Linked DNA regions of Homo sapiens. The protein of the gene in region 3 interacts with the protein of the main gene of each other region in a pairwise test. Each region holds a gene or a part of one and is shown on either strand. Other genes may lie near its edges.

What was found. Proteins that work in one complex are often made in the same cells at the same time.
Region 1: the proteins of TNIK (region 3) and MTCL3 interact in a two-hybrid assay, tested with the Homo sapiens proteins (one large-scale study listed by IntAct).
Region 2: the proteins of TNIK (region 3) and PLCL2 interact in a two-hybrid assay, tested with the Homo sapiens proteins (one large-scale study listed by IntAct).
Region 4: the proteins of TNIK (region 3) and USP24 interact in a two-hybrid assay, tested with the Homo sapiens proteins (one large-scale study listed by IntAct).

What each region holds. Positions count from the first base shown.
Region 1 is NC_000006.12:127,484,836-127,488,335, forward strand, and holds part of MTCL3 (microtubule cross-linking factor 3 precursor), read right to left. Parts: intron 1-3,500.
Region 2 is NC_000003.12:17,083,955-17,087,454, forward strand, and holds part of PLCL2 (inactive phospholipase C-like protein 2), read left to right. Parts: intron 1-3,500. UniProt on the Homo sapiens protein: May play an role in the regulation of Ins(1,4,5)P3 around the endoplasmic reticulum.
Region 3 is NC_000003.12:171,081,988-171,087,315, forward strand, and holds part of TNIK (TRAF2 and NCK-interacting protein kinase), read right to left. Parts: intron 3,243-5,328; coding exon 3,131-3,242; intron 2,339-3,130; coding exon 2,168-2,338; intron 408-2,167; coding exon 264-407; intron 1-263. UniProt on the Homo sapiens protein: Serine/threonine kinase that acts as an essential activator of the Wnt signaling pathway. Recruited to promoters of Wnt target genes and required to activate their expression. May act by phosphorylating TCF4/TCF7L2.
Region 4 is NC_000001.11:55,208,865-55,212,364, forward strand, and holds part of USP24 (ubiquitin carboxyl-terminal hydrolase 24), read right to left. Parts: intron 1-3,500. UniProt on the Homo sapiens protein: Ubiquitin-specific protease that regulates cell survival in various contexts through modulating the protein stability of some of its substrates including DDB2, MCL1 or TP53.

The DNA of each region.
Region 1 (3,500 bases), on a different chromosome or scaffold from region 3:
CCTTTTAGCCTCACTTTGCAGGTGCTGAAACTAAAGTTTACAGGGGTAACAGAAGTAGATGAATAAATTATCAAAAGCATCAGTTATCTCTGTGCTCCTCAGAACAGCATCATCAGTGTCACCCAGAAAGCTGTTGGAAAAGCAAATTCTTGAGATTCATCCCAGAACCACTGATTCAGAAACTCTGAGGATGAGGCCCAGTGATCTATGATTTAATAAGCTAAAGTTTGCAAATGTCTAAAGTTACTAGTTGGTAACAATAACTTCAGACCTTGACCCAAGTCTTTCTCATATCTAACTGTTAGCTATTAGATCACTAAGGAGAAAGACTTTATCTAATCTAGGGCTAGAGATGGTGTGGGGAGCTAGGGATAATTTCCAAAATGAGTAGCATCTTATCTAGAATCTGGTGCATGAGTAGTTAGCCAATGGAAGATGAAGAGGAGGAAAAGGGAAAAAAAAAGGCATTCCACATAGAAAAACCATTTCTGGGACAGAAATTCCATATGGGTGTTACAGAGTGAGAGGAGAGGAGTGACATGAGATTTGCTGGTGGCATAAGTCAGATCTTGAAGGACATTGAATAAAGATTGAATTTTATCTTATTCAGGTCAAATTATTGTCCTAGGGTCAACTTGGAGCACTAAATGCTCCTATTGAGCAAGAAATGTCATAATTAGACTGTCATAGAGATATACAAAGACACAAGGGTGGCAGTACAAATCGCTGTGAGATAAAGATGTTACATGCAGGGGTTTCAAGGGAAAGTATGTTCTAGTTCTGGAAATGTTTTTTGGTCTTTGTGTTTCATTCATTTCATAGGTATTTAGTTTCTGGTCTATATGTGGTACTGTATATATGCCAAACACATGTGACTAAGAAATATTGTACTCTTTCCCCAAAGAGCTAACTGTTTATAATGATAAAAAGGATGCAATTAGCAAAAACAGTGGGCAGAACTAACTCAGGGCAATAAATGAACAAAAAGGGACTGAGAGGGCAAAGGAAGAAGCTCTAATTCCAGATCTGGGGAATCAGAGAAAATCATTCAAGAGAACTGACTTTTGAAGGATATGCAAAATTTCAACAGAAATAAAACTGAACAAACTGTTGTAGGAGTAAAGATATAGAGGAATGAGTTTGCCTTTCAGATGCACTAACTCCTGAAAAGAAGTGATGGAGGTAGGGCCACTGTAGAGATGGGGTAAAAGAAGATGCAGAAAAGATTGAGGTCAGCTTGTGCAGCTGAGAAATTTAGACTTTATCCTGTGGGCAATGTTAAAATGAGACCTCTAAATTAATATAAGAGCAATGCTGAAATTAGGGCATTCTTTCCTAAGAGGCATTTTCTATTTTGCTTTTATTTAAATATCACTCAGGTGGAGTGTTAAGCTCAAATAAAGCTCTGAAGTAAAGCCTTCCCCTTGAATAAAGATACATTAGCTTTCAGGTGCCTTTAGGGCTGCTACTATGTGTAAGTATCACATTTGCATTTTCAATAAATATTTCATATTTTCATATTCCAGTAAGTTTATGTTAACTTTCTGAATCCTATGAAACAAAGATGAGACATTTCTATGGATACAGAAAGTTAGAGAAATAATGTGAGTCCAAGTAGTCCCTTTCCTGTGAGGATGAAACTGTGTAACCTCCCCCCTTGTCATCCTCCCCCACCATCATCCACTAAATCTTGTAACCTCTGCTAGGGGAGCAGTTGGGGAGGCCACAATGAAATCTCAGATTTTCATATTTGCTGGCAAAGCAGGCACTTCTCTAGATGGTTCTCTAGATAAATACGTTGAAAACATTTATTGTCCACTTCTTAATTCTTTACATTCCCAGCCTCAGCTTGTCCAAAAGAGGCTGCTGTTTTTTTTGATCATGAGAAGGCCAGGAATTAGAGAGTTTTGCCAGTAATTATTTTTTCACAGCAATGATATAAAATGGGTTGTTTGTTTTCTAAAAATGTTTTGAGATTATCTTCCTTTTCTCAATTAAAATTTACTCCACTTAGTATGTAGCATCTTTATGTTTTCAGCAATTAAACCACAGAGAAGAATGTGCCTAACATGCTACCAAAAGACATATTATGCATATAGAAGTCTCCTATGCTGTTGATAAAATTAAAGAGAGATTCATTTGTGTGGTAATTAAATCAAGAAGGAAACTATAGAGACATTAATATTTAGATCTTTTGAGCCCTAAATATGTGTCATGCACTTTTCTAAGCACTTTATATGTATCTACTCATTCAGACTGACAACAGACTTATTGACACCATTGTCTGAAGCACACAATGGATTTATCGCTCAGCTAGCTAGTGTTAGAACCAGGATGCAAATTAGCCAGTTTCAGAGTTCCCACTCTGAACAACTACATTATACTGTTACTTCGACAGAAAAAGGTGCAATTTAGATAGCAGGCTTATATTATTTCTGAGCATATCCTTTATGGTAACAGAGCGTGACAGCAAGGTTTGGGGTACTAGGTTACATATATGACACATGTGCAGAAGTTTTAATATTTTCAACACAGGGATCAGCAGAAGTGACATACACCACTTACTGGTTCTTAAATCAATCTGTAAATACTGTGACTATAGGGTAACACTGGGAGGGAGGCCCAGGGATTGCCTGCTGGAAGGAAACTGAAAAAGGTAGAAGCTCTGTCTCCAACTTGTCTTGGAAGGGGACAGAATGGGCTCTTGTTCCTAGAAGTCTTCCTCTTTTCCTTCTATTACATCCTTGACACTTACCCAGACAGACTGGCAGAGGCAGAACAGGTGAAGTGCCCAGAGAGCTTACTTAGGACCACATTCACTCTCTTCCCTAAAAGGGTGAGGCAGGATCCCAAGCTTCATACTAAGGCATGATCTTAAGGTCCAGAGGGGAATGTGGGTGAAGAAGAGGCACATGCCAGGGTGATCAAGCTGTATCATCCTGTGCAAAATCTTTCAGTGGCTTCCCATCTCACTGAGTTAGAGTCATGCTTTACTAAGGTATACCAGACCCTGACTACACACTGGATTTATTCTGGTAATGTTTTATAAAGACTTGACCAGATTTCAACCCAGACCAATTAAAACAGATTTTGGGATTGGGCCCAGACATTTTTTCAAAGCTCCCAGAGTGACTAGAATGTGTAGCTGGTTCTGTCAACTACCAGCCCACTCTATGTGGTCACCCCACCCCCCAATCCCACATCCCAAACAAGCCCTTCAACCTCATCTCCCACCACACTCCTCACTGCTTTCTTTGCTCTAGTGTCACAGGCATCCTTGCAGTTCCTCAAACATACCAAGTATGCCCTTGTTTGGGGCCTTTGGATTATGGCTTCCTCTGCCTGCAACATTCTTCCATCATATACTCTCATGACCCACTTCCATAGTCTCTTCAGGGTTCCTAATAAGAGAGACCTTCCCAGGCCATTTCATATCAAAAAGCAAATCCTTCGGCCATTCTCTTCCTTTGCATATTCCTTGTCTTCCTAATTCTGCTTTT
Region 2 (3,500 bases), about 150 Mb from region 3:
ATGACATTAAAAACAGAAAATACATAGAGAAAAATCAGTAAAACCAAAAGCTAGTCCTTTGAAAACCTTATTAAAATCAGTAAGTCTTTAGTCAAGCTAACTAAGAAAGAGATGATACAAATTACTAATGTCAGAAATGAAATAAAGGATATCACCACAGATTTTATGGACACTAAAAGGATAATGAAGGAATATTATGAACAATTCTATGCCCACAAACTTGAAAACCTAGATGAAATAGGCCAATTCCTTGAAAGGTACCATCTGCCAAAACTCATATGAGAAGAAATATACAATCTGAATAATTCTATATCTATTAAGGAAATCAAATCAATAATTAATAAGCCTCCAAAACAAAAAGCACCAGCACAGATAGGTTCACTGGTTTCTGCTAAACATTTAAGAAAGAAATGATACCAATTCTCTACAATATCTTCCAGAAAATAGAAGCAGAGTGAATACTTCCTAACTCATTCTACCAACCCAGTTTTACCTTAATACCAAACCAAAGACATTACAAGAAAAGAAAACAATAGACCAGTATCTCTCATCAACACAGATGCAAAAATCCTTAACAAAATATTAACAATTAAAATCCAAAAATGAATAAAAAGAATTATTCACCATGATCAAATGGGATTTATACTGGGTATACAAGGTTGATTTAACTTTTGAAAATCAACTAATGTCATTCATCATATCAACAGGCTAAAGAAGACAAAGCTCGTGGTTGTATCAGTAGATGCAAAAAAAGTTTGACAAAATTCAACTCCCATTCATGACAAAAATTCTCAGTGAACTAGGAATAGAGAGGACCTTACTCAACTTGATAAGGAACATCTACAAAAATCATACTGCTTACATCATATTTAAAGGTGAGAAACTGAAAGCATTCCCGATAAGATTAGGGACAAAGCAAAGATGTTCTCTGACACCACTGCTTTCAACATTGACCTGGAAGTCCAGTCCTAGCTAATGAAGAAAGACAAGAAAATAAAATAAAAGGTATATATCTTGAGAAGGAAGAAATAAAACTGTCTCTGTTCACAGATGATATAATCATCTATGTAGAAAATCCAAAAGAATTGACAAAAAAATCTCCTCGAACAATATAATGAGCAATTATGGCAGGGTTGCAGGAAACAAGGTTAGTATACAAAAATCAATTGATTTCTTTTTTTAAGAAAAAAAAAATTTTGAGACAGGGTCTCACTCTGTCACCCAGGCTGGAGTGTACTGGCATGATCATGGCTCACTGCAGCCTTGACTTCCCTGGGCTCAGGTGATCCTCCCACCTCAGCCTCACAAGTAGCTGGTACTTCAGGTGCACACCAACATACCCAGCTAATTTTTGTATTTTTATATAGAGATGGGGTTTCGCCAGGTTGCCCAGGCCAGTATTGAACTCCTGAGGCTCAAGCCTTAGCCTCCCAAAGTGCTGGGATTACAGGCATGAGCCACCACACCCAGCCAATTTATTTCTTTTTTTTTTTAAGGCGGAGTCTCACTTTGTGAGACAGAGTGTCGCTCTTGTTGCCCAGGCTGGAGTGCAGTGGTGTGATCTCGGCTCACTGCAAGCTCCACCTCCTGGGTTCACGCCATTCTCTGCCTCAGCCTCCCAAGTAGCTGGGACTACAGGCGCCCGCCACCACGCCCGGCTAATTTTTTGTATTTTTAGTAGAGACGGGGTTTCACCATGTTAGCCAGGATGGTCTCGATCTCCTGACCTCATGATCCGCCCGCCTCGGCCTCCCAAAGTGCTGGGATTACAGGCGTGAGCCACCATGCCCGGCCCAATTTATTTCTTATATACCAGCAAAGAACAAGTGGAATTCGAAATTAAAAACACATGACCATTTACATTAGAACCCCCAGAAATAAAATATTCAGGTATAAATCTAACAACATATATATGACTTATATGAGGAAAACTATAAAACTCTGGTGAAAGGTATCAAAGAATTAAGTAAATGGAGAGATATTCCATATTCATGGATGGGAAGACTTAATATTGTCAAGATATCAGTTCTTCCCAACTTGATATATAGATTCAACATAATCTCAAACTTCCAGCAAGCATAAAAATAGATAAATAAATAAATCCACCAAGTTATTTTGTGGAAATTGACAAACCGATTCCAAAGTTTAAAGAGAGAAACAAAAGACCCAGAATAGCCAACACAATATTAAAGGAGAAGAATAAAATCAGAGGACAGACTTTATCTGACTTTAAAACTTACTGCAAAGCTACAGGAAATAAAACAGTGTGAAAAGAATAGACAAATAGATCAGCAGAACAGGATAGAAGAGCCCAGAAATAGACCCACACAAAGCAGTTACTCAATCTTTGGCAAAGAGGCAAAGGCAATACAGTGGAATAGAGACTTCATCTTTTCAACAATTCATGCTGGAAAAACTGGACATCCACATGAAAAATTCAGTCTAGGCACAAATCTTACACCCTTCACAAGAATTAACTCAAAATAGATCATAGACCTAAAGATAAAACACAAAGCTATAGAATTCCTAGAAGATAACACAGGATAAAATCTAGGCGACCTTGGATATGGCAGTGCTTTTTCAGATACACCACCATAGACAATCCATTAAAGGAAGAATGGGTAAGTTGGACTTCCTTAAAATTTAAAACTTCTGCTCTATAAAGACAATGTCAAGAGAATGAGAAGAGAAGCCACAGTCTGGGAGAAAATACTTGCAAAGGACACACCTGATAAAGTACTGTTTTCCAAAATATGCAAAGAACTCTTAAAACTCAACAGTAAGGAAACAACCTGATTAAAAACTGGGCAAAAGTCTGAGCAGTCAAAGAGCTCTTAAAAAATGCAAAGAACCCTTAAAACTCAACAGTAAGGAAACAACCTGATTAAAAACTGGGCAAAAGTCTGAACAGTCACCTCGCCAAAGAAGATATACAAATGGAAAGTATATTAGCATCACATGTCACTAGGAAATTATATATTAAAACAACAATGAGATACCAATACACATCTATTACAGTAGCCAAAATACAAAACTAACATCACCAAATGCTGGCGAGGATGTGAAACAACAGGAACTTTCATTTATGCTGGTGGAAATGCAAAATGGTGCAGACAATTTGGAAGAAACTGTCAAACTATCTGTAGTTCTTACAGAACTAAACATACTCTTACCATATGATCCAGCGATCATACCCCTTGGAATGTACCTAAATGAATTGGAAACTTATGTCAACACAAAAATCTGCATACAGATGCTTATAGCAGAGTTATTTTTAATTGCCAAAATTTGGAAGCAACATAGATGTCCTGAAGTAAATGAATGGATAAATAAACTGCAGTGCATCCAGACAATGGAATATTATTCAGCACTAAAAAGATATGAGCTATCAAGCCATGAGACGACATGGAGGAAATTTAAATGCATATTACTAAGCGAAAGAAGCCAATCCAAAAAGGCTACACACTGTGTTTCCAACTAGACGACATTGTTGAAAAGGC
Region 3 (5,328 bases):
GACAGAGGTAAAGAGCTATAAATATATAGCCTTTGTGGTATGTCTCTGCCTAATTCAGATTTAATGCAGAGGTGAGAGACTTCTTTTTGGAGGTCAGAATTCCCAGTGTTACAAAATGTGGGCAATCTCACTCTGGCTATACTGCTATACTTTATTGTGTTGTTTGTTAGCTGGGAAGGGCAGAACTAACTGTTTCTGCAGAAATGAGGTGGATCCCTTTCCCGCTGTATGGACCTGGGGGACTCATCATCTTAGTAACATACCTGAAATTGTCACAAGGACATTCAGTCCCTCTAGCACATCCATCTGCTGAAATCGCCTCCGGTTGATCAGATTATAGACTTTGCCTTGCCCACTTCGGTCCAAAAGCATCAGGCCATTTTCAGTCCCCACCAGAAGGTTTACACCTGTAAATTTAAGAAGCACCCTAAGACTGACTTTTCATGAACTTTAATCTTCTGCATCGAGAGTCCCTATAAAATTTAAGAAACTGTGACTTGTAAATATACACTAATGGGCAAGTAGGTAAATATAAACTAATGAATGTAGAAGCTCTGACATAATAATTAAATCATTGTACTTCTGGTAATGAAATTACAGTTTTCTTTTATAAAGTTAGCAGCATTCATACATCTAGTTATTTACTACCTAATGCAGAGAGTCCTTGTCAATAGGAGCCTTAGGCACAGATGTGAAGCTAGCATAATTTGCCTTTATTCCCTGCCTGGAAAAACCACTTCTTTCTTGGCTCTCCCTATAAATCACTTCTCTTCTTCCCCAAGATTCACCCCCACCCCTATGCAGTGGTCTCTAGCCTACCCACCTTCAATATACAGTGGAATTTCCATTTCCATACTCCAATGGAAGAAAGGCCCTTCCTCCTTCTTGAATCAAAATGTAACTATCTTATGCCCCATACCCTCAAGTTTTTGCTCTTTTTTAGGGAAATGATAAACCCATTCAAGAGAAGTGTTAATAGCTGGAGAGTCACAGACATACTCACTTTAAGGGACTTCTCAGGTCTCTAAATCTAGTGCAGCCCAACACCCATGCAGTAATCCCTATTACAGAAGCACAGGCACATAAGTGGCTTTGTCTGGGTAGTTGTAATCCTAAAAATTTATGGCTAGGGAAATGTATCATCCACCCCTCAACACACACACACATTGAGAGGCTCATTGTGCAGTGTACTTTATTCATGAACATGTAACTCTCTAACTTCTCTTACGTCTTGTACTTCTATCTTCTGATCAACACAAATGTCTGCTTTTTTGTCCATATATTAATCCTTTCAGTATTAAATGTGGCTATCTTGTTCTCTTCTGTCTCTTCTCCAGAGGACAGAGCCTCTATCATGAAATGGTTCCTAGGCTTCACACTCTTCCCCGCTAACATCTCAAATGCTTTCAGCCTTTTAAAATTATGGTTCCCCAATCCAAGCCTAGTATTTTCAGTGGGTACACAGGGGACATGTCCTTCCTTAATCTGTATGAGATGTTTATAGTAACACAGACCAAGACTTTGATAGAATCTCATCATGCCTCTCCTGAGTTTGAGGTCAGCTAAAACCTGCAGATCTTTTTCACGAGAAAATGCAGATTGATGTTTTAAACTAAAAGGGAAAGTTCATTAAATTATTTGTTGTTCTTTTCAAGTTTTATCTTGTTATTGCTAGGGTTATGACCTTTAGTAATTCACAAAAATACTCTGGGCTGATTTTTCAGCTTGAAATAAAGGTTTATGCCATTATTTATGCTCATATTCCCCTTGCAGGATGTGGTATGGATCATGGAGAATGAACGTGGGGTATATCACAAAGTGCCAGACACAAATCGCCTCTGATTGATCACATTATAGGCTTTGCTTTGCCCACTCAATGTATTCAGTGGTAGCTAGTTCTCTTGTTGGCTTTAGCCTATCACTATTGTGTGACAAGGTTGCTCTGAATCTAATCTCGTCTTCCTGGCTAGTAGCGTATCAGCTATTTCTACATATAAAACTCCTTTTGGTTTCTCCTGAGGTCAAGATAGTCCCAAGTTAGGTCTCTAATACCCAGGATTCAACCAGTGTTCTTTTGATGACAAGATCCACAGGCTTTTAATGTTTGAGGGTCAGTTCATTAATGAGTGGTTATTTAAAAAAAAAAAAAAAAAAAGCACCAACATACCCCACAGAGCTGCACAAAGTATTTCTGAGTTGAATCGTTTCTTGTATTTTCTGATTTCTGGTGTGTCGCTATGAGGCCGAATGTTGGTTGGGTTTACATTTACCACCGAAATCTTTCTTGCTTCATTGAGTTTGGCCTGTTCTTGCCTAAGAAGTTCGCTAGTAAACAGAGCTTTGAGAAAAAGAATCAGAGAAGTCAGTGACATCTTAAAAGATAACTTATGGAGATGGGGCTTCAAAACACTATGATTTCTCCTTGTTTGGTTTGAATTATAGTAAAGGCAAGGAAACTCTGAAACTCTCCTTATTTTACACTTTTTTTTTGTTTTAGTAGAATAAAGTCTAAGTCATTCATCAAAGGAATCTTTTATTCATTAGAAAAACAGGCTTATAGACACTACTTGCAGAGTCTAGAAAGTCCCAAATTAAATACACCATCCCCACTCTTGTATATAGGCAAAAAAGATCTACTTTTTAAAATTGCAGTTTATCAGTTGAAAAACTGTCCTAAGCTGACTTTGATGATTAATTACTTGAAGAAGATTAGAAAGCAAGACTCCTTTAAATCAGCCTGATCTTTGTGGTGGGAAGCACACACCTAGAACTCAACACAATGTACCATACACTTATTAAGTGCCTAATGTGTGTAAAACATTGTACCCAGAAATTGTTTTGGGGAAACATTTAGTTATGTTCAGAGATCACTGAGGAACAGCTTTTCCTAGGGTCCCTATGTACCCCTGGGTCTACCAGAAACGAAATAGAAGAGATGGGAAAAAAAATGGAAAGTAATACATTTGTTTTAGGAGTCCTACAGAAATAATAATTTTAAAAAGTCTTCCTTTTAAGATAGGACCTAAGCAGTAATCAGCTTAACTACTGAACTGAGGATTAATTTCCTTATCAGGTCATACCAGAAAGGAAGACGAAGCTGTTTTTTAAACACAGGGCCCTTCTTGCTTACCTGCGGCTGATGATTCCTCATCCTCTTCATCTTCATCAGTGGGAGACGTCTGGTATACTCTGGGGTCCACAAAGGGGGTGAAGGAGGCTTTGGTGCTGCTCCCCATGCCATACTAATCAATAAGCAAGAAGATTAAGAAGAGCAGATAAATACTGCAGGAATAACAATGCTAACAATACTGTGCTTGGGCTGTAAAACGATCACAGATTCTTCAAGGTATTCAGGTGTTCACATTCTAGTGCTCTAGTCAGTGCGTGCCTGTCTCCAGCTTCTTCTGGTATTGGTTACTCACTAGTCATTGTGCATTCGTAGGACTTCATTAATTATCAGACTGCAAGAATTGTAGTGAGAAAATTACATTTTGGACCACATGTGGCACCTTAAAATCTGTAAGATCACTGTGGTGACAGAGCTTACCTCTCCCTTTCAGTAAAAGCAACCTCCTATATTGACTACTTGATCAATATGAAAAGCTGACATAATTGGCAATAAACTAAGTAAGGAAGCCTATACAGCAGTACTTTATCCTGAACAGAGTCAAACCAAGGGGCTTTCTCTTGGGGAGGAGAGCTTTGAGCCCTTCTACTCTGGCCTGGTGATGCAAGTGAATTGGTGTTGGCTCCAAAAGCTTTAAAATCCTCAATTCAGGGATGATTTTATGCTGGAATTGAAGATATTTCCTTCCCACGATAGTTTCCTTAAAAGAATAATTACATTTACATCCTTATTTAGGGACTTCATGAGGATATTACGTTTGTGAGCAATGTACCTTGAAGGCTTACTTTAAAAAATGAATCTTGGGCTTGAATGGCACCATGAAAACATGATGTCAGAAGGAGATGAGGGAACAGTAAACTCAATATCAGGGTTTTATGTCACAATATTCTAAATTTGAGTTTTGCTGAATAAGCTGCAATGTCAGTCATGTCCATTTCTTCTATTCTTGTCCTTTAACATCATAAACACATCTGTATTCAACATAATAAGCACATCTTTTTTGGATAAATATCTTTAACTAAAGGTTATTTCACTTTAGTTTTACTGTTAGGTTTTTATTTAAAAATAAAACCACCATCCAAGACCTCTAAACATATAAGGAGAAAACCACAAAGATCTAATCTGATTTAATTCAAGATTTTCTTTCCATCCTATGAAATCAAAACCATTTCATCCTCCTCAAGGTTGAATTCCCCCTACCAAATAGAACACTTTCACGTACATGTTCTCTTTTGATCTTTGGAAGATGTCTGTGAAAGAGGTAGGGCAGGCACTAACATTTCCACATAGAGCTGGGGCAGCAGCAGAATTTGAACCAGGGTTCAATCTTATGGTGTCCTCCTTGGTACCAAGAGAGGTGTTCAGGCAGAAAATGCCCACACAGCATGAAATTACAATAGGATGCTGTGCTTTGCAGTATATCACTGTGTTCTTTTCCTTGGGGTATGCAAAGCTCATCTACTCTATAACTTTAGAATTCAAAGGGTGCATCATAAAAACTTAGTGTGTGGACAATGTCAAAAATAATAGTACATGTGCTTTATAAACACATTTAGGGCCTTACGTGTGATTGACAAGACTGTTAATGAAACAAGACTACACACTGTGAACTCATCCAACTGGTGTCAGTCATCAGCGTCTATGGGCACTACCTACAGATTGTGTTTATTCAGACTTTTCGCTGGGGCTGTTTCTCTACAGGAAAGGTAATGCTTGGTTTCTTTCTTCTCACACAATTTTGAATTTATGAAAGATGAACACTCTAAGAACTTATCTATTTATTAAATTTTATTTTTCATAAACAAATCATTTAAACTTCATTTTACTTAAGTCATACTTAGTTTGACTAAATTAACACAAATATAAACCTCAACTGTTGGCCTTGAAATCTGTGTAGCCTGAAGTTTCCATCAGAACTGGAGGTCCCAGTTCTGGTCTTAGATCTGTCACAAACCAGCTGTGTGTCTTGGACAAGTCATTCAACCTCTGTGAACCTCAGTACACTCATCTGTAGAAACAGGTATTGGTTCAGATGATATCTGAGAACTTTTCACTGCTCTGCTTCCATGATTTCTCTATTTGAGTATCTGCATAAGTAGCTCTATGGTAGAAACCAACCAAACAAGTTTCAAGGAGCTTGGCGAAGCCTCATTCTTGAAGAGATCATGGTTTTAGAACCCCAGGAAGGACAGCAGAACTGT
Region 4 (3,500 bases), on a different chromosome or scaffold from region 3:
GGCGGACGTTGCAGTGAGCCAAGATCACACCACTGCACTCCAGCCTGGGTGAAAGAGCAAAACTCCATCTTAAAAAAACAAAACAAAACAAAAAAAACCCAATAATGTCACCTACTATCAATATGAGCTTAACGAAAATTTTTATGTCAGTTGTGACTGAAAAATGTGATAACACTAAACAATAAAAATTCCTATGATAAAGAAAATGAAAAATACAAGCTTAAAAAAGGAAGTAAAACTCCCTAGAAAAAAAAGGGAGGAAAAAAACATTTACTCTTTTGAAAATGAAGCACAACTCTCTTAGTCGTACCTCTGCAATCTAGTATCATGACTGAAATGTCCTCACATCTGAATTTTCCAGGTGTCTGAAGCCTACTTCTTTATCCATCCAACTTCTTCTTTTTTTTTCTTTTTAAAAGGAAAACCTTTCTAAAATACATTAAACATTCCTGACCCTTCTTAAGCAGACCACACTGGAACCTCTTCTTGACTGTGACATCATTGAAAACACAGTTATCCTCTCAGGGCCATGAAACACATAATAAAGCTGTTTCAAATCACCCTACACAAATCGGCTAGTGTGATTTGGTTGAGTCGGCTTTTAAAGCTTTCCTGTTCCCTCCTTGACCACTAAGCTGCTACTGTCACTTCTCACTATTGTCAAATGAGCTTGTCTCTAAGAGCTCATCACCTTGTGTTTAGATTGCCATAAAACCATTCTAATTTGATAGGAAACCTAATATTGAAACTTGTTTGAACTGTATTTTTTGTTAAGTTTAAACACAAATGAAAGAAATGCATGAGCTTTAGTGCACTTAGAGCGCTTAGTGAGTGGAGTGCATGAGCTTTAATGCATGTACGAAGGTGTTCTGAAATGGTTCCATCTTATGTGTTTACTTCTTATTTCTCTCTGTGGTTCCATATAAGGAAAATTTCCAGGAAAACTGAACTCCAGATTTCAGATTCTACTAAATCTTTTTTAACATTTTCTTATTAAAAGTAAAAAACGCCCTCCTTCACACTCAGATCAAGTAAATGGTATATGATATTGTAGGCAGTAAGTATAAAAATACTTAAGTATATGGACATATTTTTCTATTAATGTTGAAACCTTTTCCTCAAATTGCTAAAACATTACAACATTTGCTTTTCTAACATTGAAATTGTTTTCAAAATTTAAGCTAACAATATTATTATGCTGTATAAAGCTGTCACAACCTACTATGATTTCACTAAAACCACACTCACAGACACACGAAAGGTACTCTCTTCATGCCAAATTACATTCATTCTAAAAGTGAATGGGCAGGTAATTACAAGGTGAGACTCCAACCATTAGATTAACTCACAGACCTAATTCCCAAAGGAGATATATATACATATACTGGATCAGAAAGAAATTCTTATTTAAAAATTAGGCCATGCTGATTCATCTTTAATTCCCTATTTTTATTTCATCTACTTTCAACTGATTTGGGAAATTATTTCATTTTTTTACTCTAAAGCCTTTAAAGGGCCTTTTTTTATTTACCAAATCACAGTAATTCATAAACCACAGGTCATGTACCAAATCACTAATAGTTAACTAAAAGCTACTCATTTGATATTTACTCCACACTCATACTAGGGTTGTTGTATTTTAGGAAAAGAATAACATGAATTTTACCATAAACCTTAATTATACACATTGACAGTATTACAATTTTAATCCATTTATAATTACCACTTACTACCAAAGGGGAACAAGAGAAATAGGAATGAGGTAAGTTAAGGAACTACAAATTAATATGCTTCTTATTTTTATGTGACTTAGATATATTAACAGCAGGACCAACTTTGGGGCTCTAAACTTAAAAAAACAAAAAAGCAATGAAATCTTGAAAGTACTCCTGACAAAACAATACCTCCAGAAAGAACATCCACATTAAAACAGGAACAAAACAAGGAGTTCACAATGTTTATCAGATCACAGTATTAAATGTCACTTCTGGGAATATTAATTAACAGCACTAGACAGCTAAGAAAGGTATTTCCTCAGTTAATATGAAATCTCCTTCCAAAAACTTCCATTTTAGTATTTTCTAAAGACAAACTTAATGAATAAGGTATTCATTATAGTATTAATGTTTGATGGTATTCCTTATGGATAAGGTACATTTCATAATTGTTAAGTTCTGTGAGATGCACAGGATACCTGGTTCAGATTTCTACTGATCCCCTGGAGAGATTACAAAGGCCCAACTCTTCCTGTTGTGTAGAGAACAGAACCAATTGGTACGCACTTGGCAGGCCAGAGTTTACATTAGCCATGCAGTAAAGAGTGAAGAATTCTGACAGGGGGGTGGTTAAAAATCAGAATAAGTTATTTAGAGCAGCTGTGAGAGCTCACTCTCTTTAATAATAGAACAGACTCTTATGTGCCGTGGAATGATTTTGAAGTAATGCTATTCAAAATCAAAACTGGACAGCTTCTCAAAGTCCCTTCCAGACCCAGAGACCAAGAACATTTACATCCAACAATACTAGTGAGAACCAAACACATCTCTTCTGCAAAACACTATCTTTACTTAATTGGAGGATATTAACAAGGTGGCTTTCTATGCAGTTGTGTGTTTTGCTAGATATCTGGGTCTTTTTTATCTGCATTCTCCTTGCTTCTACTGAACCGGAAGTTAACAGCTTTCACTGTTCAAATATTAATTTTTAAACCAAACCCTAATTACAGCAGGGCCTCAAACTGATTTACCTAACTAGCTACATGACCTTGGACAGTCTTTTCTTGTAAAATGAGAGGCTTGGACTAAGACCCACTAGAATGTAAACACCACGTTCTGTTCAACACTCTACTCCCTGCCCCTGGGACAGGAAGGCATTAAGAGAAAACCATTGCTATCCCCAAACTACAAATATAAAAAAACTTAAGTCATTTCTTTCTTTTCTAATCAATTAGATTTTATTCTGTTTTTCCCATTTTTAAAGAAGACAATGACACTGAAATGTCCTGTGCAGCAAATAGAAATGTATATAATTTAAAATAAGGTACTCAGTTTTTAGAAATAAAAAGGATTAACTATATAATAGCTGACAATCTTCACCCAGTTTTTTTACTCTTCTTCCTTCCCTTTAACCCATTACTGTGTCCCATTCCTTTTTCCTTTGAAAGAGAGCCCGAAAGAGTGCAGGACTTCAAGCAAAAGGGCCTGAGTACTAGCCCCACCTCTTCTATTAACTGACTCTGTGGGGACAAGCCACTTCCCCTTTGGGGCCCGAAAGGGTGCATCTGTTAAACAAGGGAGCTGCACTAATTATTAATTTCTAAAGTATGCTTCTTTTTAAAAAATCTGATTCACCTTATATTCTACCCATTATTCGATTCTTAATGGTTGGTGCTCACCACATCATTGCACAGTAGCCTTAAAATATGTCTTTCCCTCATTATTTCTCCTTACTATCCATACTGTTACCAAACAAATTTAATCCTAAAACCATGAGTTGAGCAG